Regions from separate parts of the Homo sapiens genome. Here region 2 is linked to region 1. The links come from fine-mapping of genetic effects on gene expression. Tissue or cell type: whole blood. Region 1 holds a variant in brackets; the other region holds the start of a gene. All regions are shown on one strand. Distances are between the middles of the regions.

Region 1 (11,709 bases):
CGAAGCCTCCTGGCTATGTTCTGAGGCTCTCCCATCCCATGGCAGTGAAAGACTCAGAGGACACAAAGGCACAACTCAGACGGGGATGGCTAGGCCTTCTCCCCAAAATCATCTGGGCTTGTTTTCGTCCCTGCAGAATGGTTTTTTTCCCCCTATGATGGCTCTGACTAATTTAGTTAAATGGCAGATAAAGTGGGGAGAAGGTGGCCCATTTCCTCCTTACTTTCTCTCCAAGGGTGTCATGTTGCCCACATTTAAGGTTGACCACTTTTATCTGGTGTAGCAAGTTCAATAGTGACCCTCCAAAATTTATGTCCCATCTGAAACCAGTGAATGTGACCTTATTTGGAAATTGGGTCTTTGCAGATGTAATCAAGTTAAGATGGGGTTGTACTTTTATCTAAGCTGCCACCAAAGAGGCTGAAAAATCAGAATGACATGGGATGGAAACAGACCATGTTTTTGGGGTGGTGTGCTGTGGCCTTCTGCTGTCCTTCTCCTGACATCCTCACAGGGTACTTTGGGGGACAAAGTTTTATCTCAGGGCATTACAGTTTGCTGGGAGATCCAGGCTAGGCAAGAGGGGATTTTTACCTGCAGGGAAGAATGGGTAGTCTTTCCATGGGCAGGAGAAGCCCCTCAGCAGGAGAGGGGTGGTGTCAGGAGCAGGGGTTCCAGCTGTGCACTGCCAAGGATGCATTTTAGCACAGAAAACAAGAACAATGCATCTTGGAACTGTTTATGGGACATGATGATCACCACTTAGTATCCAGTGATTTATTAAGTCTAACATGGTTCCATTTTAGAAGATATGGTTCCATTTTAGAAGAATCAAGAAGAGTATGTCCTGGAATTAATTTTAAACTCATTGGAGGAGGCCCAAGCAGTTAATCAGCTAGTGAGTTCATTGCTAATGAGACTTGTGTGTCAGTTAGGAAGGAGTATGTTTTGTGGTCGTTTCTATCTGTCAACTTAGGTTGTTTACTGAGGCAAAATGGAGGAAAGTTTAATAGTGGAGATGGTAATAGCGAATATTTTGCGGTAGTACCCCAAAATATTAAAAATACGGTAGTATTGTATGCCGGCATTGTTTTAAAATGCTCTTTATGTATTAACATGTTCAGTTTACAGATGGTGTTCAGAGGGATTAAGGAACTTGCCCCAGGACAAACACTGTGGCTGGATTTGGCACTGGCTGTGTCACTGCAGGACTGGACCCTAAATGAAATTTACATCTTCAACCAGATGGAATTGGAACAGAGAAATCCTTTAGGGGTTTGGTTTGGTTTTCCTTGAGAGGTATTTGCCTTAGGACCCATAAGTATCAAAGCTTGTTGTGCTAGGTCCTTGAGGGTTGCAAGGAAGAGAGATCTCCCCCTCCCCCAGCTGTCTGTGTCCTCTGAGCTCTCTCACTTTGCTGATAGCTAAGAGGAAAGGAAAGGATGGTTCTGATAGCTGAATCACAGAGGCAAAGAAGCCAAGCCAATAAGTATTTATTCACAGAATGCAATTTGTATTATGTTAAGAAGTCATCTGTGGGTGTTCATGTCAGTTAGCTGTCATCTGAATTGATGGGAGCGTGTCTGAGTAACAAGGGTCCTTTCAGAAGGAAGTGGCAAACGGTCCCTTCAGCCACTAAGGACAGGAGCGTGGAACTCCTGAGTCATGAGAGGTAATTTGGGCATATTCTCTCACCATTCTAGAAGCTAGAAGTTTGAAAACAGGTTTTACAAGGTTGGCTCCTTCCTTAGGCTCTGAAGGCAAGACTGTTCCCTGCTTGTCTCCTCTTCTGATGGTTGCCAGCCATCCTTGGCATTGCTTGCTGTAGATACGTGGCTCCAGTCTCCACTTCCATCTTCACGTGGCCTCCTCCCCTCTGTATCTGTGTCTTTGTATCCAGATTTCACTTCTTCCAAGGACACCAGTCATGGGGTTAGGACTCCCTCCAACGAGTACGACCCCATCTTAACTTGATTACATTTGCAAAGACCCAATTCCAAATACCGTCACATTCACTGGTTTCAGATGGACATGAATTTTGTGGGGAGGGTCCCTATTCAACTTGCTACACCAGGTAATGGGTTTCCTTTGTTTGGGATCTCTCTGCTCTGTTTGTTCGTGCTTTCCGCACTGTAAGTTGTGTCCTGTCAGTGAATATTGGTGTTCCAAGGCTGAAAGCATCACGATCCCATGCAGGTGGAATGAATATGATGAAATTATTGGCACAGCTGAAAGAAAATATATAACTGTTTAATTTATTTGAAGAAAGAACAAAGGCCCTGAGGGTTGTTAGTTCTTAAGAATTTTACTGTGTAATCATCTATGAAGTAGGCTGGAAAATGGCCGTTTTCTGTTACAAAGTACAGCGATAGTTTTTTCCTGTGCTCTTTAGCCGAGGACCGCAATTCTGTCCCTAGAATCTCAGACATTTCTAGCTGAAAGAGACCTTTGGCATCATCTACTTCTAATCTAACCTTCTCATTTTACAGATGGGGCCTTTAGGGCCCAAAAAGATTAAGTGCCTTGATTCAAGGTCATCAGCCAGGAAAGGGCAGAGCAGACACTAGGACCCAGGTCTCAGAGCCCCCAGACTGGAGCTTTTCCCAGTGCAGTGGCAGTTTCTCACTCTATCTGTGCCTCCATCTGAAAATAATGCTTTTAGCCAGGGGAGAGCAGAAAGAGGCATGGGAGACACAGCTCAGGCCTTCACCTCTGGTGGAAATACCAGTCAAGCTTGTCTTAGAGACCAGGGGCAACACTGGGAGCTCCTTTGGTGACTAGATGTTGGGCATTTGGTAGCACCTTGGTTTCCTTTGTTAATGCGGACTATAAATGGAATTCTGACTACCATTTACAGCACCTAAATCCCATTCATAAAATGGCAGGGAAGGTGTGGGCTAGCCGACAGAGAAGGGATTGCCACAGGGACACAGGAAGCCCAGCCCATCATGAAGGTGGAGCTGGGTTTGGGGTGGGGGTAGGGAGACGCTTCCTTTCCATCTGCGACATACCCAGCCCTCCAGCTGTTCTCTGTGACTTCTTTTCCCTATCTAGGCTGCCTGATGTTCATTTTAACTGGATTTCACCTGTCTGGAAAGTGGGGAGGGCCACACAAAATAATACAATGGAATCAGAGTTTGCTGTATCTAGAACAAGTTCAGAATATTAATATATAGTGACAAGTCAGACTTGGGGAAAAAAGAATACCATAAAACAAAATGCAGCAAGATAAAGTGAATGTGAAAATTTTTCTTCTAAAATTACTTATCTCCTCATTTAATACCTATGTATATGCACGTACATGCACACACTCATACTTACACATGCTTCTACATTTTATACAGTCGTTCCTGTATATCCTTGGGGAAATAGTTCCAGTTCCCCTGCAGATACCAAACCCACAGATGATCAAGTCTGATATAAAATGACATAGTATTTGCATATAACCTATGCATATCCTCCTATATACATTAAATCATCTCTAGATTACTTATAATACCTATTACAAAGTAAATGATGTAAATAATTTAAATACTGTATTGCTTTTATTTAAATTTTTCTTTTTATACTATCTTTTCTCTTATTTTCTTTTTTTTTATTTTTTAAGACGGACTCTCACTCTGTTGCCCAGGCTGGAGTGTGGTAGTGTGGCAACCTCCACCTCTCAGGTTCAAGTGATTCTCCTGCCTCAGCCTGGGATTACAGGCACGTGCCACCATACCTGGCTAATTTTTTTGTATTTTTGGTAGAGATGGGGTCTCCCCATATTGGCCAGGCTCATCTTGAACTCCTGGTCTCAAGTGATCCGCCCGCCTCGGCCTGCAAAGTGCTAGGATTACAGGCGTGAGTCCCCTGCACCCGGCCTTATTGTCTTTTTTTTCAAAAATTTTCATCTGATTGGTTGAACCTGCAGTTAAGGAGGAACAACTGTACTTCATTCGCTAAGGCTGGGTTCTAGATCTAGCTGCTCCATGAGGACTTCCTTGCTTAATTTTTTTTTTTCTGGACTGATTTTTATCTAAGCTTCTAAAGTACAGATAGCCTTAACATAAATTTCTTTTCTCCCTGGTTAAAATGAGAATTTACTTAACTGCCAACCTTCACAGTGCTAGGTGCACAGGAGGTAGTCAGGTACTTAATTAAGCCTGCTGAAACTCCAGGGAGTACCCCCAGGGACATGCAGAACTGACCTGTACCTCAGGACTTCAGGTTGAAACCTTGGATCGAGGCTGTGTAGTTGGACCACAATAATTATAAATCTCTCATAGAATTGCCTTCCCTGAATTGAATTGAATTTTAAAACCTTGGCATTTTTTGAGGGTTGAGGAAATTAATTCTCTACTGCATTTGCTATTTAAAAAAAGTTGTGGGAGGACATTGTCTGTCACATCACTCAAGGTCCCCTTACATAAAGTCCCACATTTTTTTTAAATAATTCTGTGCCAGATAAGCCCTGTTTCCACAGAGTTTCTCTTATGCCACTGGGCGTAAGAGCACAATATATGTTAGCTCTCTTTCCATTTTGGAAACCATAGGTCTGACTGGGTTTCCCTTTTCCCCCTGACAGTCAGAAAGCTCAGATAAATTAATTAAAGCATAATCACATGCATTAAAGCTTTATCACATATATAATTGTTGTGTATGTTGACATACATATTTTCCTTTCCAGTGTTTTAAAATTTCTCCTTAGATTTTCTTAGTTGCTATTTTAAAGCTTTGTTCTAATAATAAAAATGTTTGTAGTCATTATGAATTTTGGGAAATAGAAAAAAAGAAGTCGCCAATACTCTTATAACGCAGTGATTTTAGCATTCATAAAGATTTGAATATATAATTTTCCTTCTATATCTTTAGAAATTGCCAAGTAAAACAGTCTAGAAGTCACAGTGGCTTCAACTGCTCATTCTCTCATGTAAAAGAAGTCCTGAGATAGGCAGTCTAGATCTGATATGGTGGCTCCATTAAGTTGTCAAGAATTCAGATTTCTGTCTCTCTGCCCTGCTGTCATCTTAATGGGGCTCCTAGAGAGACTTCAAGGTCACTTCATGGCCCAAGAGGGCTGTTAGAGTTGCAGCCATGTTTTCTGCATTCCAGGGATGCAAGAAGGGAAAAGGGCAGACAAAGGGTGAACTCCCTGCCCTCTAAGGAGCTTTCCCAAAAATTAGATCTACCCCTCCAGAGCTGACCAGAATTTAGTTACATGGACTCACCTAGCTAAGGGAAGCCAGAAAGCATTCACCAGTCTTATACATTTCCATATCTTTCCCTATGCATATAGATTCAGTAAGGGTGTTTTCTTGAAGCTGTCTCAAATAGTTTGTGGAAAGAGTTAAGGTATAAATAAACCTCAATGAAAATATCAATAAATAAAAGGCACTACATCTTGTTATCCTATCAGCATTGCCACTCTGCCTTTCCATCATTTTTTCTAGGGATTTTTTAT[T/TTA]TATATATATATATATTGATTGTATATTTTTCAAATATTCAGTCAACACAGACCTTTTCAGGGCTAGAAGGGACCTTAGATGCTTTTCTCCAAAGGTTGCATATTCAGATGCTTACGGGGACCATTCAGGTACCATACATTATTAAAGCGGGCCAGGGATCAGTGTTGAGGTCACCACTAATAGGGAGTGGTGGGGACTGTGGCCACCTGGAGAGAGCTTGCTGGGTCTGAAGCGGGGCAGCCCTGCTCAGCTCTGTCCATTGTTGCCGTGTGAGAATGCTGGCCCTGTGTTGCCAAATCTTCTGATTTTGTTTCCAAGAGAAACCAGAAATCTAGATTTTTATCTGAAATCTCCTGGTGTTAATAATATGGCAATGAATAAATTAATTTTTTTTAAATGCCAGCTGAATGCAACACTGCCTGCCCCATGGGCTGCCAGTTTAGGATCTTTGATCTGGTCCATGCCCTGTTTTTCATTTGGCAGCCAAGCCTGTGGGGTCAGGTGGCCTGTGATGTGGCTGAAGACTTTGCTCTTCCGGCCCCACCTCACCACAGCCTGGTCCTCTATGACTAATTTGTCTCAGAATAGGGACAGATAATAATTGGAAGCTGGGCAAGACTGTTCTGAAGGTTAATTGATTCTTTCCTTCAATGGGCTTTGTTTTTCTTCTGAGGTCATTTTGGTGTGGTAGAATCAGAAAAAAGAAATTGGGCTTGAATCCCAGCTCTGCTGTTTACAGCTGTCTGACTTTGGGCAAGCCTCTGGTGTCTTGTGTGTGTCTCCTGCACCATCCATTTTCTTGCTTGCCTCTCTTTCTTTCTCACTTACCTGCCTTCAAGTAGCACAGCATGGTGATTAAGAGGAGGATCTCTTGGGCCAGATATGAAAGCTGGCTTTTCTACCCACCAGCTGTATGACACTGGGAAAGTAACTTAAACTTTCTATGTCTCAGTTACCTTGTCTATAAAATGGGGTAATAATAGCATCTACCTCATAGGGTACAGGAAGGATTAAATGAGCTACCATATGTCAAGTTTGAAGAGCAGAGCTTAGCACGTAGATAGTGCTGCATAAACATTGGGCTGTTTCCCCCATGTTCTCTCTTTTGCTTCTGCTGCTTTGGAAGCCATAGATCTTTTAGCAGCTTCTTGCACTAGGCTCAGCTCAGGTCCCCCATCTGACAGCAAGCACTTTTAGCTTCTGGCGCTTCTCAGCAGCCAGCCTCTGGCCATAGTCTGAACTCAGACCCTACAAGCAATGCAATCCCCTACCTTTTGCTTTTGGCCCTGTTCTGTTTCTGGTACTTTGTTTTTGAGCCCATCTGTGCCCTATTACTTTTCTCAGCTCATATTTTTTTCTGTCCCTGCTGTATGTTTGGAAGAGAACAAATAAGTCGACTGGCTGTGCTGTCTCGATCTCAAGCCTTGCTAAGTTATTTCATTGGTCACACAGAGATGTTACCTGTCCTGTTAGGCATTTCTGGAGATTATGTTGTGAGATAAAGGTTCAAAGCAGTGTGAATTGGCTTTAGCCAGAATTAGGAACACAGCAGAAAACTTGTCCTAGAAACCAGAGAGAGCCTGTCAGTCTTGGTGGATTCACAAAGCCTTCCCGCAGCAGGCTTGTTAAAAAGGCCAAACATTCAAGAGTGTGGCATACATGTTAATTAACAAAATTGTCTTTTCCCTAAAGACTTTAAATGCAGAGGAACTTGACTGTGCTTACGTTTCAATTAAACTGCTTCTTTTTCGTTCTTTAAAACATTACCATCCAATCTTTTTAGCTTTTAGGTTTGTTTGAATAAGAGATCTGACCTGACCGGCCCAACTGTACAACTCTTCAAGGAAAATTCGTATTTGCAGTGGGAAGAATAAGTAACATTGGTATGTATTGCTGAGACTCTTATTTTTGTTTCTCCTCCCCTTATGTTAGGAAGCAGTGAATAGAAGTGGGAAGGGAAGGACTGACTTGTTTAATTCAACAAGTCCACCCCAAACCAACAAGGAAACTGGTAGAAACTACTTGCTGCATTACCCTGTTCTGTTTCCAACAAAGGTGATGAGGAAGAACTTCTAGTTCAGTTCTGTATTACCAGCATATAGTCAGAGAATTTCTGGTGGATTTTAGTTTTGGTCCTCTAATAGAATGTGGAGACTTAAAAGCCTATATTAACAAGCTGCATCATCTTGGACATTTGTTTAGCCTTTGTTTGGCATCCGTGGCAGGGTTTGGACAAGGTGAGGAATGGCAGCCACAGGTTAAACCTATTGGGCATCTTAGTGCAGTGCTATGTACTTTTTTAGGCCACAGACCCTTTTTAGAGAATCTGATTAAAGCTGCGAACCCTCTGCCCAGAAAACTGCTCATGTGCACAAACTTTCACATGATTTCAGGGGGTTCTTAGACCGCAGGATCCCACAGGGAACCCACAGACCCCAAGTTAAGGATCCTTGTTTTAGGGGTTTATAGACAGCTTTCAGGGGATATGACCCCAGGAGTGAGGAGGAGTGTCACCAGAAGTTAAGTTTTTTTTGTTTTGTTTTTTGTTTTTGTTTTTTTGAGACGGCGTTTCGCTCTTGTCCCCAGGCTGGAGTGCAGTGGTGTGATCTTGGCTCACTGCAACCTATGCTTTCCGGGTTCAAGTGATCCTCCTGCCTCAGACTCCCAAGTAGCTGGGATTACAGGCATGTGCCACCACGCCCGGCAAATTTTTGTATTTTTGGTAGAGACAGGATTTCACCATGTTGGCCAGGGCTGGTCTCGAACTCCTGAGCTCAAGTGATCCACCCACTTTGGCCTCCCAAAGTGCATGATTACAGGCATGAGCCATGGTGCCCAGCCCAGAAGTTAAGTTTTAGGAAAACTGTCTCCTCACAGAAGTTCAGTGTAGCTGAGTTTATATTCATGGCCTAGCCTTGATTTGAAATTGTGTCAGTAAGTTTTTAAAAATCCTTGTCTTGCCCTGATGGTGGAAGACTAGTTACGGAGCTGTGATCTTTTACTTCCATTCATTACTGAATTAGGAATCCCTGCCAGAGATTTTCTGCCAAAGTGACCTCGAGTTTAGAAAAGGGTTTCTGAGTCCTCTCTGGACTTACTGTAGGTCTTAGGAAAGTTCAGTCGGTTATACCCCAAACACAGTTGGTGGAGATTGTTTTGTTCTGCCTGTCTCTAGCACTGGCTACCAGAGCTCTCATGATGACTGTTGTTAGCAGAGGCTACTTGAAACCATTCCAGGGGAAGCTGTTGCCATAGCTACCTTGGCTATGAGAGTTACCATTTTCTCTTTTTTGTTAGCTTGTGATTTCCCTGATTTTTAAGGTTAACAGCTGATGTTCTGTTTTTCTGCCGAGCAGCAAGGAAAATACTGGATTTTTGTTGCTGTTGCTTTTGTCATTGCTTATGTTTGGTTTTATATGTTTGGAGGTATGTGTGTGTGTGTGTGTGTGTGTGTGTGTGTGTGTGTGTGTGTGTGTGTGTGTGTGTGTGTTTTGTATATAAGGTAAAGTTACTTCAAAAGAGAAATATTGGGAGAGCTTGGGAAAGGCCAGATGAGCATATACATTTTCTGTATTCCAATTTTAGATTTTGACCTAGTGGTCAATTTGGTTTACTTTTAACCTAATTTTGGACTAATGGCTATAGTCAGGTAGCCTCCGCAGGGGGAAAAAACAAAACAAAACAAACTAGCCGAGCTCTATTTCATTCCTGAAACCCTTAGTAGCCAGGATCGCTGCGACCTGGGCTGAGTCTGACCCAGACTCCAGCACTGGGGAGCCTGTGGGGAGCAGATGGCTGAGTCAGGCTGAGGTTGCTTTATCTCAGCCTGCTCTGCAAATAAAGGGGTGAAGCCAGCAGGCAGTACAACCACACCTGGTGGCACCAGCAGTCCTTTCCGGGTTTCTGTTCAAGGCTGTAAACACAACATTTAACACACACCTGGGGCACCAGGTGCAGGTTAAGCCTACAGAGAGGAAAAAAAACAAAAGGATGACCTGTTAACAAAAATCAAAGTGCTACCCCTAGTCCTGCAGCCACCTCTTCGACTGATCTTATTTTTCCCCCTCCGATAAAGGACACTATTCTTAGCATTTTTCAATTTTCTGATTTGCTCATCTTAGAAATGCTTGTGAAATTATAAAAAGAAAACACAGTACCCAGTTTATCCATGCTCAGACTGTTTGTGATTTGGATTATGGCCAGTTGATTAGTAGCTGTAAGATGCTGGTGGTGTCTGCCTGTCAGGAGCCTGCGGAAACATCTGAATTGTGACACACCGTCACTGGCAGTATCTCTTAGCCCACCATGCGTCTGTAGGGTGGTGGGCACCACCCGTCCTCACTGTGCTTGTAAACTTAGACCTGTGCCTCTGCTCCCCAGATCAAGATGAATGCCATGCTGGAGACTCCCGAACTCCCAGCCGTGTTTGATGGAGTGAAGCTGGCTGCAGTGGCTGCTGTGCTGTACGTGATCGTCCGGTGTTTGAACCTGAAGAGCCCCACAGCCCCACCTGACCTCTACTTCCAGGACTCGGGGCTCTCACGCTTTCTGCTCAAGTCCTGTCCTCTTCTGACCAAAGAGTGAGTAGACCTCATGCCCTCTGTATGCTCAGCTGCTGATGTATTTGGCTTTGTGTGATGTTCAAAGAAGAAACTTCTCTCATCGTGTCCTTAAGGCATCAATGGGATATGACGTCACTGGTGTTAAAATAGCCACAGTCTGATTGCAGTCTAGTGTTTGAATCCTGGAGGGTAGGAGAGAATCAGATCTCTGTTGCCTGAAACATTCCTTCCTCTACAGTGTGATGTCATTATCCATGACAGGGACTTTGCAGAAAATAGTAGTCATTTTTAGGCAGATATGGAAAAGTTGGACAATATTCTAGTCCTTTAACGAATGCTTTGTTGCCAGTTCTAGGATGGAGAAACTATCCTCACCCAAAATAATTAATAAGCAAAAAAGCACAGATCCATTAGTTGAGTACTCTCCATCTGCCTTGTTGAAAAATGTACCAAGCATTAGCTAAGAGAATGCACTTAAAGAGAGTGCTTTGTATGAGTGAACCAGGTTTCCCTATAGAAGCCCAGATCTGTATTTTTTTTTAGATAGAGTCTTGCTCAGTCACTCAGGCTGGAGTACAGTGGCATGATCTCGACTCACTGCAACCTCCACCTCCCGGGTTCAAGCGATTCTGGTGTCTCAGCCTCTGGAGTAGCTGGAATTACAGGTGTGCTCCACCATGCCCGGCTAATTTTTGTATTTTTAGTAGAGACGGGGTTTCGCCATGTTGGCCAGGCTGGTCTTGAACTCCTGACCTCAAGTGATCTGCCCGCCTTGGCCTCCCAAAGTGCTGGGATTACAGGCATGAGCCACTGCACCTTCCTCCAGATCTGTATTTTGGAGGCAGCAGGGGCGGGCTCTGCTTCTGACAGAGGAAACTGTAGTTGTAAAATGAAGGGAATCTGCACTCTGTGTCACACATACTGTTTTCAAGAGATGCAGTGTTCACTTTTTCTCTATAGATGTCTTCTGAATGACTGTGTCTTCCTCCAGGGCTCAGGCCAAGCCTCGTGCACAGTGGGTCTGAATTCCCCACTCCTTTTGTCATGCTGCTTCACTCGCTTTGTGCTTTTTCAAGCTTACTCCATTCTGCCTGTGCCTTCTCAGGCTGCAGCTACTCAGAGAGATGTCTTCCTCAAGTGTGTCCGTTCAGCACATGACTAATGCAGTTGCTAAGACCCAGTGGTGGTAGAAGCTCTTCCCTGCATCCTGATAGCACCTCTCATCACCTCTTTTGGCTGTTGGGGACACTGGGTGAATGATTCTCTTCTAAGAGCAGACAAATAGGCAATGAACATCTGAGAGTCTGGGCCCCTGCTTTGTGTAGTTGTCTAGTTAATTTTCACATGTACTATTATGTGCTTTAGGTGTTTTGGGTGTACATGGGCGGTATTCTTATGCAGTTTTCTCATAGTTGTGACAGTGATGTCATGACCCCAAGTCAAGAGAGAGATTGCGTAATAGTGGTGGACACTATAAATGTCATCATACTGAATTTGGAACTGCCCCTGCTGAGGGGACTTTTTATTACAGTAGCCTCCACAGCCAGGCACAAGAGCAAGGACATGGTGTTCTTATATGCAGTGTTTGCAGTTAAAAATCAGCTCTGTAAAGGGTGTGCACGGTATATGTTTTGAAAATCATCCAGTATTTGTCATAGTCATATTTTGAATGTTTCTTTTTTTCTTTCTTTTTTTTTTGAGAC
Region 2 (11,709 bases), 24 kb before region 1:
TAGATGTCTTGCTCAGTAAAAAATGTTTACTGTCTTGTAAATTAATTTAAATATATGGTAAAATAATATAGGGGTCTCTGGAAAGATGGAAATTGTTTGTTATTGTTTTTGAGACGGAGTCTCACTCTGTTGCCCAGGCTGCAGTGCAATGGTGTAATCTCAGTGCAATCTTGGCTCACTGCAACCTCCGCCTACCAGGTTCAAGCGATTCTCCTGCCTCAACCTCCCAGGTAGCTGGAATTACAGGCGCCTGCCACCACGCTGGGCTAATTTTTGTATTTTAAGTAGAGACGGAGTTTCACCATGTTGGCCAGGCTGGTCTCGAGCTCCTGACCTCAAGTGATCCACCCGCCTGGGCCTCCCAAACTGCTGGGATTACAGGTGTGAGCCACTGTGCCCGGCCTGTTTTTGTTTTTTTGTGGGTTTTTTGTAGTTGTTGTTATTTTTTTACACTGCATCTCGCCTTCTCCGGAAATAGTTTTAAAATAGCTCAATAACATAAAATTATGTAGGAAAGGGTGTATGATGAGCTTATTTAATGCACAAGTTTTATCGACTGTTTTGCAATTAATAGTATGAAAAACTCAATTTTTATTTCTGTAATTAAGAATGACATCAGGAAGAGGAATGCATGGTGACTAAGAAGAAGTCATCATTAGCCAGTCACCTGTCAGATATTCTGTATGTATCTGATTATAAGATTAGAACACTTTTTCATCTGTGTGTGTGCGCGCGTGCACGTGCGTGTATGTGTGTTTGTGTGTTTCATGAGCATTTTTAGTACTGGGTCCTATATATGTAAGTATAAATATTACCATAAAATTTATCAACCAAATTGGGACTATTTGAGAGTCACCTGGTGGGAGGGAGGGCACTATTAAAATTTTGCCAGGACAACATACATAAGCCAGGAGTGTTCATCTTATGATTTTACTATAGACAACTCACATATAGCTTAAGAAAGCAGCTCAAATCACAGACAAGATTATTTTTCATGATCGTTTTCACTGGCCACCAGAAAGCCTTTTCTAATAACAAAAGGACCACATTTTTGAATTTCATCATAGTTTGTCCTCATGGAACTATTGCATGCTGGGACTTAAAGCCTCTAAACAAACTTCATCTCCATTACCAATAAGAAGCCAGACAGTCGACCTGGTAACAGGACATTCTGAACCTCCTTCCTAGACTGCATGCAGACTGCACCGGCTGTGACAATAAAGCCACAATATTGGATCCCTCAGACTGCACCATGTCATGACTGCAGGAATACTTTATGAACCTCCAGGCTGCAGCTTTTACTATTATTCTCTTAGCCTCATCCTTTCCATTTCCCTCACAGTGATTACACTGATGAGGTCTAGTCTCAAAAACCTTAACTCGGTCCTCAAACCGTTTTTGGTAACCATATTCGAAAGGAAAAGTTTCTCGCACCAGGTGGTGAGATTTTGCTAGTGTAAAAAAAAAAAAAAAAAAAATCCTGCATGTGTTGGAGAGTGTGTATATAGGAACTGTCTGTACTTTCCACTTAATTTTGTTATAAACCTAAAACTATTTATTTATTTAGAGACAGAGTCTCCCTCTGTTGCCCAGGCTGGAGTGCAGTGGTACGATCTTGGTTCACTGCATCCGCCGCCTCCTAGGTTCAAGCGATTCTCCTGCCTCAGCCTCCCAAGTAGCTGGGATTACAGGCACACGTCACCACACCCAGCTAATTTTTGTATTTTTAGTAGAGACGGTGTTTCGCCAATTGACCAGACTGGTCTCAAACTCCTGGCTTCAAGTGATCCGCCCACCTCAGCCTCCCAAAGTGTTGGGATTACAGGCATGAGCCACGGCGCCTGGCCCTAAAACTGCTTTAAAAAATAAAGTCTATCTATATTTTCTAAAAATCCTGAATCCTGTGATCACTACTTCTGAGGGCTAGAACTTAGAAAATGAGTGAGGACCTTAGAGGAAGGTTCTGAAATGGGCTCCTATAATAGCTGTGGCAAACATTTATTAAACATTTTTAGGTATTTGCCAGGTACTGTTTGATGCACTTTGCATCTGTGAACTCATCTGCCACTCAAAGGACCCCATGAGACAAGCACTTCACTGTCCTCTGCGTTTTACAGAAGAAAGTAGGGCACAGAGATGTGCTGTACTCGCCCAAGGTCACAAGGCTAGGAAGGATGGAATCAGGATCCAATCCCCAGCAGTAGAGCTTCCAAATCCCCTTTCTCTGAACCATCCCCCGAGGACACAGAATAACAAAAATGACAAACTGAGTGAATTGCTGATTTTCCTTAAAAGAATAAATAGAACATATTATCTGCTCCAACCACTGCTCCCTGCTGTCTCCCAGAGTACCTTGACTTTCTCAGGTTAGTAAATCCTGCAGAGGCCCCAGTTGAGTTAGAAGCAGTTCTGCTTTAATGAAGTCCTGCAGCTTTGGCCATCCCAGAAGGTGACTGGGGCATACCCTCTCCCTTGTTCTTTTTTATTACAAGGTACTGTCACGGTTTTGAAAATTCACTTTACAGCCACATCCCAACACCTGCTTATCTCAGGCCAAGGCTCACCAAATCCTCAATCCCAACGGGCCACTAAACTTGAAGGCAAAAATAAGTCCATTTTGTCTCCTAAATGGCCTCCCTCAGAAATGATTTATAGAATGAAATAATATGATTAAACAGAATATGGCAAGACTGCAAGCAGAAGGGAGGAAACAGAAACCAGAGACAATTAAGGAAACAGTTCTGTGTGCTGGGAAATGATAATGGATCATTCTTTAAGCCTGCCAGAGCTGCAGAGAAGATGCCCGGATCCTTTTACTCTTCCTCCTCTTCCTGAGCTCAGTCTGTGCCTCTTTTTGAGCCTCTGTGACATAATTGTGTTTTAGAATTCCTGAACTGGAAAGATGTCCTTTTCTGGAACTGGTGGCTGAACCTATGTTCCTGAGATGGGAGAAAAAAGCCATTTACACAATGGCGAGCCCATCTGCAATCTACTCCTAACAGCTGCTTTTTGTGGCTCTGAATCAAGTTGGAGAAATCATCCTGGATCTCAGGAGCCACTTCATGCTTTTCAGGGCCTAACAAGACATCTCACTTTCCCTTAGCAAACACAGGCAGAAGCAAACCTGTATTGGGCTGGGCCTATTTCCGTAACATGCATGCAGCCATGTGTATGGCTACCAAGCAGCACTGTTTAAAGACAAGAACCAGAAAACTGTGGATCAGAACCAAATGTGTACATAGATATGTGTACACACCCCTCCAAAACTAGTGACAAATCTTTTTTGTTTTTTTTTTTCTGAGACAGAGTCTCACTCTGTCATCCAAGCTGGAATGCAGTGGTGCAATCTCACTGCAGCCTCTGCTTCCTGGGTTCAAACGATTATCCTGCCTCAGCCTCCTGAGTAGCTGGGATTACAGGTGTGTGCCACCATGCCCAGCTAATTTTGTATTTTTAGTAGAGATGGGGTTTCACCATGATGGCCAGGCTGGTCTGGAACTGCTGACCTCAGGTGATCCTCCTGCCTTGGCCTCCCAAAGTGCTGGGATTACAGGCTTGAGCCACTGTGCCCAGCCTATTTTTTAAATTATTATTAATTTTTAATTGACAAAATTTGTATATATTTATGATGTACAACATGCTTTACTTATTTATGTTTATCATGTTATTATGTTTATTTGTCAAACAAGGTCTCACTCTGTGGCCCAGGCTGGAGTGCAGTGGTGCGATCACAGCTCACTGCAGCCTCAACTTCCTGGGCTCAAACAACCCTCCTGCCTCAGCCTCCCCACTAGCTGGGACTACAGGCATGCACCACCACATCAGGCTAAATTTTAAATTTTTTGTAGAGACGGGGTCTCACTATGTTGCCCAGGTTGGTCTCAGACTCCTGGGCTCCGCCTCAGCTTCCCAAAATGTTGGATTACAGGCGTGAGCCACTGTACCGGTCCATGTTTTGATACATGTATACATTGTGGGATAGCTACACCAAGCTAGTTAACATATGCATTACCTTATATACTTATCTAGTGATAATCTAAAGCTCTTTTTTGGAAGTCCAAACTGTTTTAACTCAGAGTCAGGACGATGGGGTTCATCACTAAGAGACTTTGCTACTGAAGCCTGGGTTTTTCTTTTCCAAGATGAAAGAGAATACAGAGGAATATATAAACACTGAGATGAAACCTTTTTTTTTCAAGGTAACATGACAACTGAATGAAAAATAGAGCAATGGCAAAGGATTCTTTCTTCTCCTTCACTCTGATGTACCATGGCTGTGAGTTCTTTCAAAGACAGACACAAAGGGTCTGGGGCTACATTCAGGCCTGAGAAGCTATTTCTGTCCACACTCTGTGATGTCTACACCTTCAGAATGGGGAATGGGTTTCAGGGGTCTCTGACAGATAGAGCTCATGCAATGATTTCTGGTCCGGTGCTGATCAGCCTTCAAAGGATGTTATTTGGTTACGCTCCATAAAACTTGAGCCAGCCCACTGTTCCTTGTCACAACCTGAAATATGTTGGGAAAAATTTACATGGTAACAAATGCCACTTCCCTTCTCTGACTAAATCGCTCCTCTCATTTCATCCCCTGCTCCCTCTCTCCGAGCCCTATGGGGCCTTGGTAGGGTGGCCTTGTCTGCCCTACAGGGGTTGCATTTCAAGTCGCTCAAGTGTTCTATTCTTGGTACACGACATGCCATTGCAAAAGCAGTTTCAGGCTCATAGAATTTTAGAAATGGGCCTAGTTTCCCAGCCGGATGAGGTGAGTGGGTGATGGGGGAAGAATCAGCCTTGATTGAATGCCTGTTGAGTGCCAGCCACTGTTGGCATTTATCAGAGTTTATTTAATCTTCTCATCAACTACTATTGTTACCCTCAGTTGCCAAGTGAAGGGAGCATGCGGGAAGGTTAAGTGACTTGCCCAAGCCCACACAACCGGTAGGAGCCCCAATTCCAGGCCCTAGTTCCAAGGCTACATTCTTCCAGGCGGCCTCCAACTGGGTTGGTTAAGGGTTGAAAGGACAGTGGGACAATAACTGAGGCCCGTATTGCCCAGAGCGTCCCCATCCCCCGTCCGGAGCTGGAAGAGGCCATAGACCGCTGCCTCCACATCTTTTCCTCTCCTTCGGGTTCGGTGACTCACGACCCTTCTTCCTCTCTCCCGGGATATGACCTCAAATTTCACCCCTGCGAAATTTGAGTACACGTGAGTCAGTCAGTCGGCCTGGACCCATAAGAGCCCCAGCTGAGCTACCAGCAGCTGAGCTACCAGCCGACCTCATTCCTCTGAGCCCAGTCGACAGCTGACCTTACCCAGCCCTCTAAAGCAGTTTGCGGTCACAATTACCCGTCTCTTCACCCCGCCCCCATCGACATCAAACACGACCCACCTTCTAGCCCTCCTCCCCTTTCCCCGCCCACTCCGGGCTGGCCTTATCCAGTAGCGTCTGGGTCCCTGGACTAAAGCCGTCAAATGTAACCAATTGCTGAGGAGCTCTCCCCTAAGAATCCCGCCTCCACTCTGAGGAACAGCTTCGCTGATCAATGGATCCCCTCCTAGACGCAATGAGCGCGCGGGGCAAGTGGAGAAGCGGCTGAACTGCCCAATGAACAAGCGGTTTCCGTGGTTAGGGGCGTGGCAGAAGCGGTCGTCAGGGGCGTGGCGGCAGTTACTTGGGCGGGGCCGGTAGCGGCGGGAGCTGCACTGGCCAGGGGTTCCGGCTGTATATCCATGAGCGCCGCTGGCAGCCGGGGAGCTGCAGGAACCAGACTGGGGGCGAGCTGAGCACCTGTAGTCAATCACACGCAGGTAAAGCCACGGCCGAGCGAGCTCCGCGGAGCGGGGATCGCACCCCGGACCCGTCGAACCGAATCTCCGAGCCCCGAGGTCCCCGGCGTAGCTCGGCCCATCACGCCGCAGCCTGAGGGGATCCTGGGGGGCCTGTCATCTGGCGCCGTGGGGGTCCCAGGGGCTGGCTTGCCCAGTGGTGGGGACAGCCCAGATCGCGGCGGGGGATACGCCTTCCTGAGGCCCTTTGTCCCCTTCTGCCCGAGGAACCGAGGTTGGGGACAACCCCGACCGCGGCCTTTCCCCCATTGGTGCTCACTCCTGGGTCTTCAGGGGCCTGGGGAGGGGTCTGCCGGTTCAGGCTCGGCGAAGAAGGTCCGGGATCCGCACCTGGAAGGAGAGGGCCGAGGGGCCTGATTACAGCCCGAGATACCCGAGAGGCCTCTGTGTTTCGGGGCTCCAGGGGCTCACGCAGGACCAGTGGGTTTAAGTTCTAGAAAGGCAGCTTTTGACCCACTTGGAAGCACATTTACCGAGTTCGGCCCCGCGACCGGCACTGTTCTAGGCCCTTCGTGAGCTTTTCCCACAGCTAGAGCTGTCCAGCAGCGCAGGAGGCTGCCTGCCAGGCCGGGCAGCTAGCGCCTCGACCTTGGCGATGTCCAAGCAGTGGCCTGATGACAGCCACCTGTGTCGGATGCTTAGGACTCCCAAGGGAGGACTGCATGACCCATCTGTAAGGGCCTTCTCTACCCACAAATGCACTCTAAGTGGCCTTTGATGCCTAGCTTGAGAAGAGTACTTCTGGGGGTCCATTAGGTTCCAAGTGGCTGTTGAATTCACCCATAATGAATTTTGAGGTTTCAGCTCTCAAGAGTGGGTGTTAGCAAAGAGACTGGATTATACAAAAAGATAGAGGTTTATTTAGCCACTGTGAAACTCCTTGTATTTGAACTACCATGGACCGCTCTCTTAATCTTCCCAATCTCTCTTTTTTGGTTGCTGGACCTCCAGTTTGTCAGTTTCACCTGCATTCCAGTAACCAAATCCAAAGGCATGTTCCAAGAACAGGCTCCACAGAGGGACCTGGAGAGACTGCAGGTTTGGCAGAGTCAACAAGATCTGTGCCCAGAGCTTTTCGAAGGCCGTTTCCTTACAGCCACATTAAGCAGAGTCCAAAAGAGAAATCCTTCACTACCCTCTGTCATTTGCCGGAATAGAGAGAACATAATAATCTAAAGGTCAGGAGGCAGAGAAAGAATCTTAACACACCTTGCTGTGTGTTTTAGGATGAATTAATCTTTGAACATCTAGTCAGAAAGCAGTCCATATACAGCTGGTAGTCAGCACGGACTGTGACATTTTAGAGCTGAAGGCACCTTAGATAGAGCTCATCTCTATCTAAGTCTAATTAGGTGGACTCTCATTCAGTCTCCTCAATGCACAGGTGAGGAAACTGAGGCCTGGGGTGGTCACAGGGCTGGTTGGTCATCACAGGCCCATGACTAAGGGTTGATCTCTTGACTGTATTTAGATCTAGCCAGTGCATGACTTATTTCACTCCAAGCTTAGTTTGCCCATTCTCAGTGTTTTAAGTTCTAGGGGAGTCCAGAGAGGTTAGGAGGACAGATTTTGGTGCCTGAGTGCCTGGATTTGAATCCCAGCCCTGCCTCTTACTGGCTGTACAACCTTGGGCAAGCTACTTAACTTCTCTGTGCCTCTGTTTCCTCACCTCTAAAACAGAAATAATAATGATACTTATGTTAGAAGATTGTTTTGAGAAGTGCATGGAGTTACTACATCTGAAGCATTTAGAACAGTACCTGGCACAGGGTAAGCACAATAGATTTGCTAGATATGATATTCTGTTGCCTTTTTGTACATTTTTCTTCATATCCACCACCCAATACTCTATCAAGAGCTAATTTTTCCCCCAGTCCCCTTCCCCCCACCCCCAAATTCATTTAACATATTCCAGATTTCATTTTAACACAGACAGCTGCAAGGGGTTTCCAAGTCACGTTGCATTTTATACCTTACTTATTTTTGTGATTCAGGTAATTTAGTTTCTATGTTAGTTCCCCCTTGCAGTTACATTCTTCTTAGGCTCTGAACCCTTTAAAATTATCGTTAAAAGCAGGCAGTGAGGGGTGGGAATCCCTCGAAATGGTAAAGTCCTGGATGATACCCGTGTCCATGGTGTCCTTCCAAATATGTATTCCCTCTCTTCAGCCCTCCTCCCAAGCGATGAGTGTGATGCAGCTTGATTCTAAATGGATGAACATTTTTAGATTAAGATTTTATGAGCCACTGTATTAAGTGCTTTTCGGAAGTTCAGGGATCATGTGTCAACTGCATTTAAGGAAGTTACTTAGTCATTCGAATAGGGGGAGCACCAGCAGCGCCTGCCTGGCCTGGCAGAAGCAAAAGTGTGTGACTGATCCGTGCTGGCAATCTAGCTGGTTCACTGGTTTATCTGTGTTTTTCCTGTTCTTTTCCAAAGCTTGAAATAAACCAGATGGCAAGTACAAGGGAATGGTCTTTTTCCTCTCATTTTAGTCAGGGTCGTTCACTTTTTTCCCTTTTTACTCTCACCTTCATTTCCTTTATCGCCTGCGTGGGTCTGACAAATAGGCACTCTCAGTGTGCCAGCCAATTCCCTTTTGATGAAAAGATGCCTGCCACTTTCATTTTTTGCAGGAATCCAGTCACCTTTGATTTTCTCTTCTGTTTTTACTTGTTTTCTAGATTGAACCAAAGATTATCACTTCATTAAATGGCACCTTCTCATGCTTTATTTTTCTTGAGTTGATTCTGAATTTCGGTTTTTGTTTAAGCTGTTCTAGAGATCAGCCATTTTAGAATAATAGTTTTCATTTCTTTGCTTGTGTATTAATATGGGCCCCTTTCTCTCTTTCTCACTCTCTTTTCTCAGTATTTTGGTGGATGAGCTTCTCATTTGCTGTTACTCGTTGCTTTAAGCATTTACGCCTTTTCCTGGTAATCTCCGGCAGGACCCATAACCTCTGTAGTGGTTCTCACTGCCCTTGTTCAGAGCTCCTGCCCCGAGCAGGAAATAATTTCTTTGGTCTTATGGGAGACAGGGGTAGAGTCTGTCTTATTTTTTGCCTAAAATCTGGCTCTTTTAAAAGCCCCAGGAGAGAGACATTTCCAATATAATTGAATTTTGTGTGGCAGAATTTCTACCATGACCTACAGCTTACAGTATTCCCATTTTTATTGCATTGTGAGTTTTGAGTACTCCATGACCAGTTTCAGAGTATAGATGATGTGGGGCATGAGTTGCTTTAGCCTTTCTGTTTCATCTTGGGCTAAGCTATCCCCAGGAACAGAGCAATGAGAAGTTCAGGGTGCCTCTTAAATGTGTCTGGTGTCAGGATTTTATAGCAGCTTTTCATGGTTCAGCCTTTTTGGCCAGTGCATGAGTAGGACATTTTTAAGCCCTGTGCTGCTGTTTCTTTGTTGATACCATACAGATGCTACATTATCTCCTTTCAGGATTTTCATATCTGCAGATTGATTTTTGTTGTCTTGTCCAGGGCATCATATTTTTGGATTGAATGTTTTCTGTTTGTAAAATGGTTGGTGTGGACAGACGATAAGCTCCACCATTACCCCTGAAGCTTGTGGACTGGGGCCATTTGGGTGAGGGGCTTGTTACACACCGACTCATTGTCTGATCTTTCACAATAAATAGCAGACAGGTGAAGAGCTTTTTAGAGAAGTGGAACGTTGGTACCCTTGGATTTGCCTGGTTTCTGATTTTCTTTTGTTGTCTTTAAGTGGAGGTTCATTAAGTTCAACAAATTAAGCATCTGGTGTGTGCCAGGAACACAGTTGACAAGATTAACAAATTAGTTTGGTTTGTTGCTTAAAAACTATTTTGTTTTAAAATTGTTTTTAATAGAAATTTTAAAATTTTTTAATTCAAATTTTAGTTTTTAAAAATAGGCAATACATTCACATGATGAAAGAAAATTTTTTAAAGGCACAAAAGGTTAACTAGTAAATACATCTGTGTGTACCCCTGACCCCTGATCCTCAGAGGCAACCAGTATTAGCGATTTCTTCATCCTCCAGAAGTGGTCCCTGAACTTCCAAGGGATTTTATACATCTGTAAGCAAATTCGTTAAACATATTCTGTACACCACCCCTTTTTGCAGAAATGGTAGCACACTGCATACATGCTATTTGGAACCTTGCCTTTTTCACTTAATATTTCTTGGCAGTGTGAAAAGAGCTTCCACGTCATTTTTTATGAAGGCCGTCTATTTTAGATATCTGTTTTCTGTTTCTAAGGATGCTAAAAAACAGTCTTATTTAGGCAGCAGCTTTGCTGGAGATCTTAAAGATCTTGTGAATATTTGGAGGCAAATATTTTTCTTTTCTGTGAGAGCCCGGGGGAGGTGCAGGGGAGCTTCTAAAGGTCAGCTGAGAAGGGAGAGCTGGGGCACTGGAGAGTGAGGAACGCATTGGTCCTTGGGCCCTTCTTCGCCTTGCCGTCTGTGCAGAATGTGCTAGCATTTCCAGGGAAAGTTTGCCGTTTGCTCTCTGTTCTCCAGAGAAGCTTCCTGGCCTCCCCAAGTCACATTTCCAGCATCTTTTTTCATTCTTTTTTTTTTTTTTTTTTTTTTTTGAGACAGAGTCTCACTTTTGTCTCCCAGGCTGGAGTGCAGTGGCGCAATCTTGGCTCGCTGCAACCTCTGCTTCGCGGGTTCAAACGATTTTCCTGCCTCAGCCTCTCAAGTAGCTGGGATTACAGGCACACGCCACCACCCCCAGCTAATTTTGTATTTTTGGTAGAGACAGGGTTTCACTATGCTGGTCTCAAACTCCTGACCTCAGGTGATCCTCTTGCCTCAGCCTCCCAAAGTGCTGGGATTACAGACGTGAGCCACCGTGCCTGGCCTCATTTCCAGCATCTCTGTTGCATTTCATCCCGTCTCCTGCACCACAGCATCACTCCATTTGTCCTGCCTTTGGGCGTCCAAGAGGAAGCCTGCCCTTTGTCACAGCACTTTCTGTTTGGGTAGCTTTAAGTGTCTCACCCCTTCTTTTCTCTCACCCCAGGAAAAACCAGCTCTCACACCTGCTCCTCTGTAAAGCGTCTTCCCCAAGCCCACACGTAATTTTGTTGCTGTCCTTGAAAGTATTTCCCAAGATCTCCAAACCGCTTTAAACTTCCAAGGTCTGAGCCTGACCTGGCCTCGCTAACAAAGGGTTCCACTGATGCCGACTCTAAGAAGAAAGTTTTCAAGGTTCTTCGTATTTGAACTTTCTATGGCTAGGCTTATGTTTAAAATAACCACACTGATTTAAACATGGTCTTATAGTCTTCAGTGGCTCCCAGGTCTTGCCTCTCGGGTTTTTTTTCCTCTTTCCTTTGAATGTGCCTTAACCTTCGTCTTGCTTTTATTTACCTCTGAGTCTGGTTTAGAGCCACCTGGAAATTGAATGGAATCTTTAGTCTATTAGTCTAATCTAGAGTCCTTACCTTCTGGCCTTTGCTCATTGCAGAGCCCCCACATTATTAGTCAGTTGTACCACAGATACTGTGTTACATAAGGTGAGGAGAGGGAGGTGGTGTTATCAGTTCCACTTTTTCCAGGCTAGAGTGCAGTGGCCCGATCTCGGTGCACTGCAACCTCTGCTTCCCGGGTTCAAGCGATTTTCCTGCCTCAGCCTCTCATTTTATCTTGGATAAAAGAGAAGCTTTGAAAGATTGCCTCCCTATGTGTACAGTCACTGTAGGCATGTATTTGTGTACTGTTTACTTAGTCATGTCAATGAGGGCAATAAAAAACAAAAATCAGGAAGCCCAACATGGATTGCTACATTTTAATTCTTTCAAATAAGGAAATACAGCAGGGCTTGGTGTCACTACGCCTGTAGTGACAGC

What was found.
Region 2: ABHD2 starts here. The variant in region 1 is fine-mapped to the expression of ABHD2 in whole blood (INTERVAL, PIP above 0.99).

What each region holds. Positions count from the first base shown.
Region 1 is chr15:89,106,498-89,118,206 of GRCh38, forward strand. It overlaps ABHD2 (abhydrolase domain containing 2, acylglycerol lipase), which reads left to right. Exons shown (of 11, transcript NM_152924.5): 2 at 7,228-7,327; 3 at 9,825-10,024. The coding sequence starts at 9,831. LOC124903573 reads right to left here and starts at 35. Exons shown (of 7, transcript XM_047433432.1): 1 at 1-35. The coding sequence starts at 35. RefSeq lists enhancers at 4,752-5,290, 6,364-6,493, 9,058-9,633. The variant T/TTA (reference allele first, on the strand shown) is at 5,444.
Region 2 is chr15:89,082,752-89,094,460 of GRCh38, forward strand. ABHD2 (abhydrolase domain containing 2, acylglycerol lipase) reads left to right here and starts at 5,705. Exons shown (of 11, transcript NM_152924.5): 1 at 5,705-5,812. It overlaps LOC124903573, which reads right to left. Exons shown (of 7, transcript XM_047433432.1): 3 at 9,425-9,490; 4 at 8,384-8,532; 5 at 6,084-6,181; 6 at 5,317-5,935; 7 at 4,810-5,190. The coding sequence ends at 4,976. It overlaps CARMAL (coronary artery disease region linked MFGE8 regulatory lncRNA), which reads left to right. Exons shown (of 4, transcript NR_183882.1): 4 at 1-1,478. RefSeq lists enhancers at 4,468-5,113, 5,724-5,903, 5,845-6,364.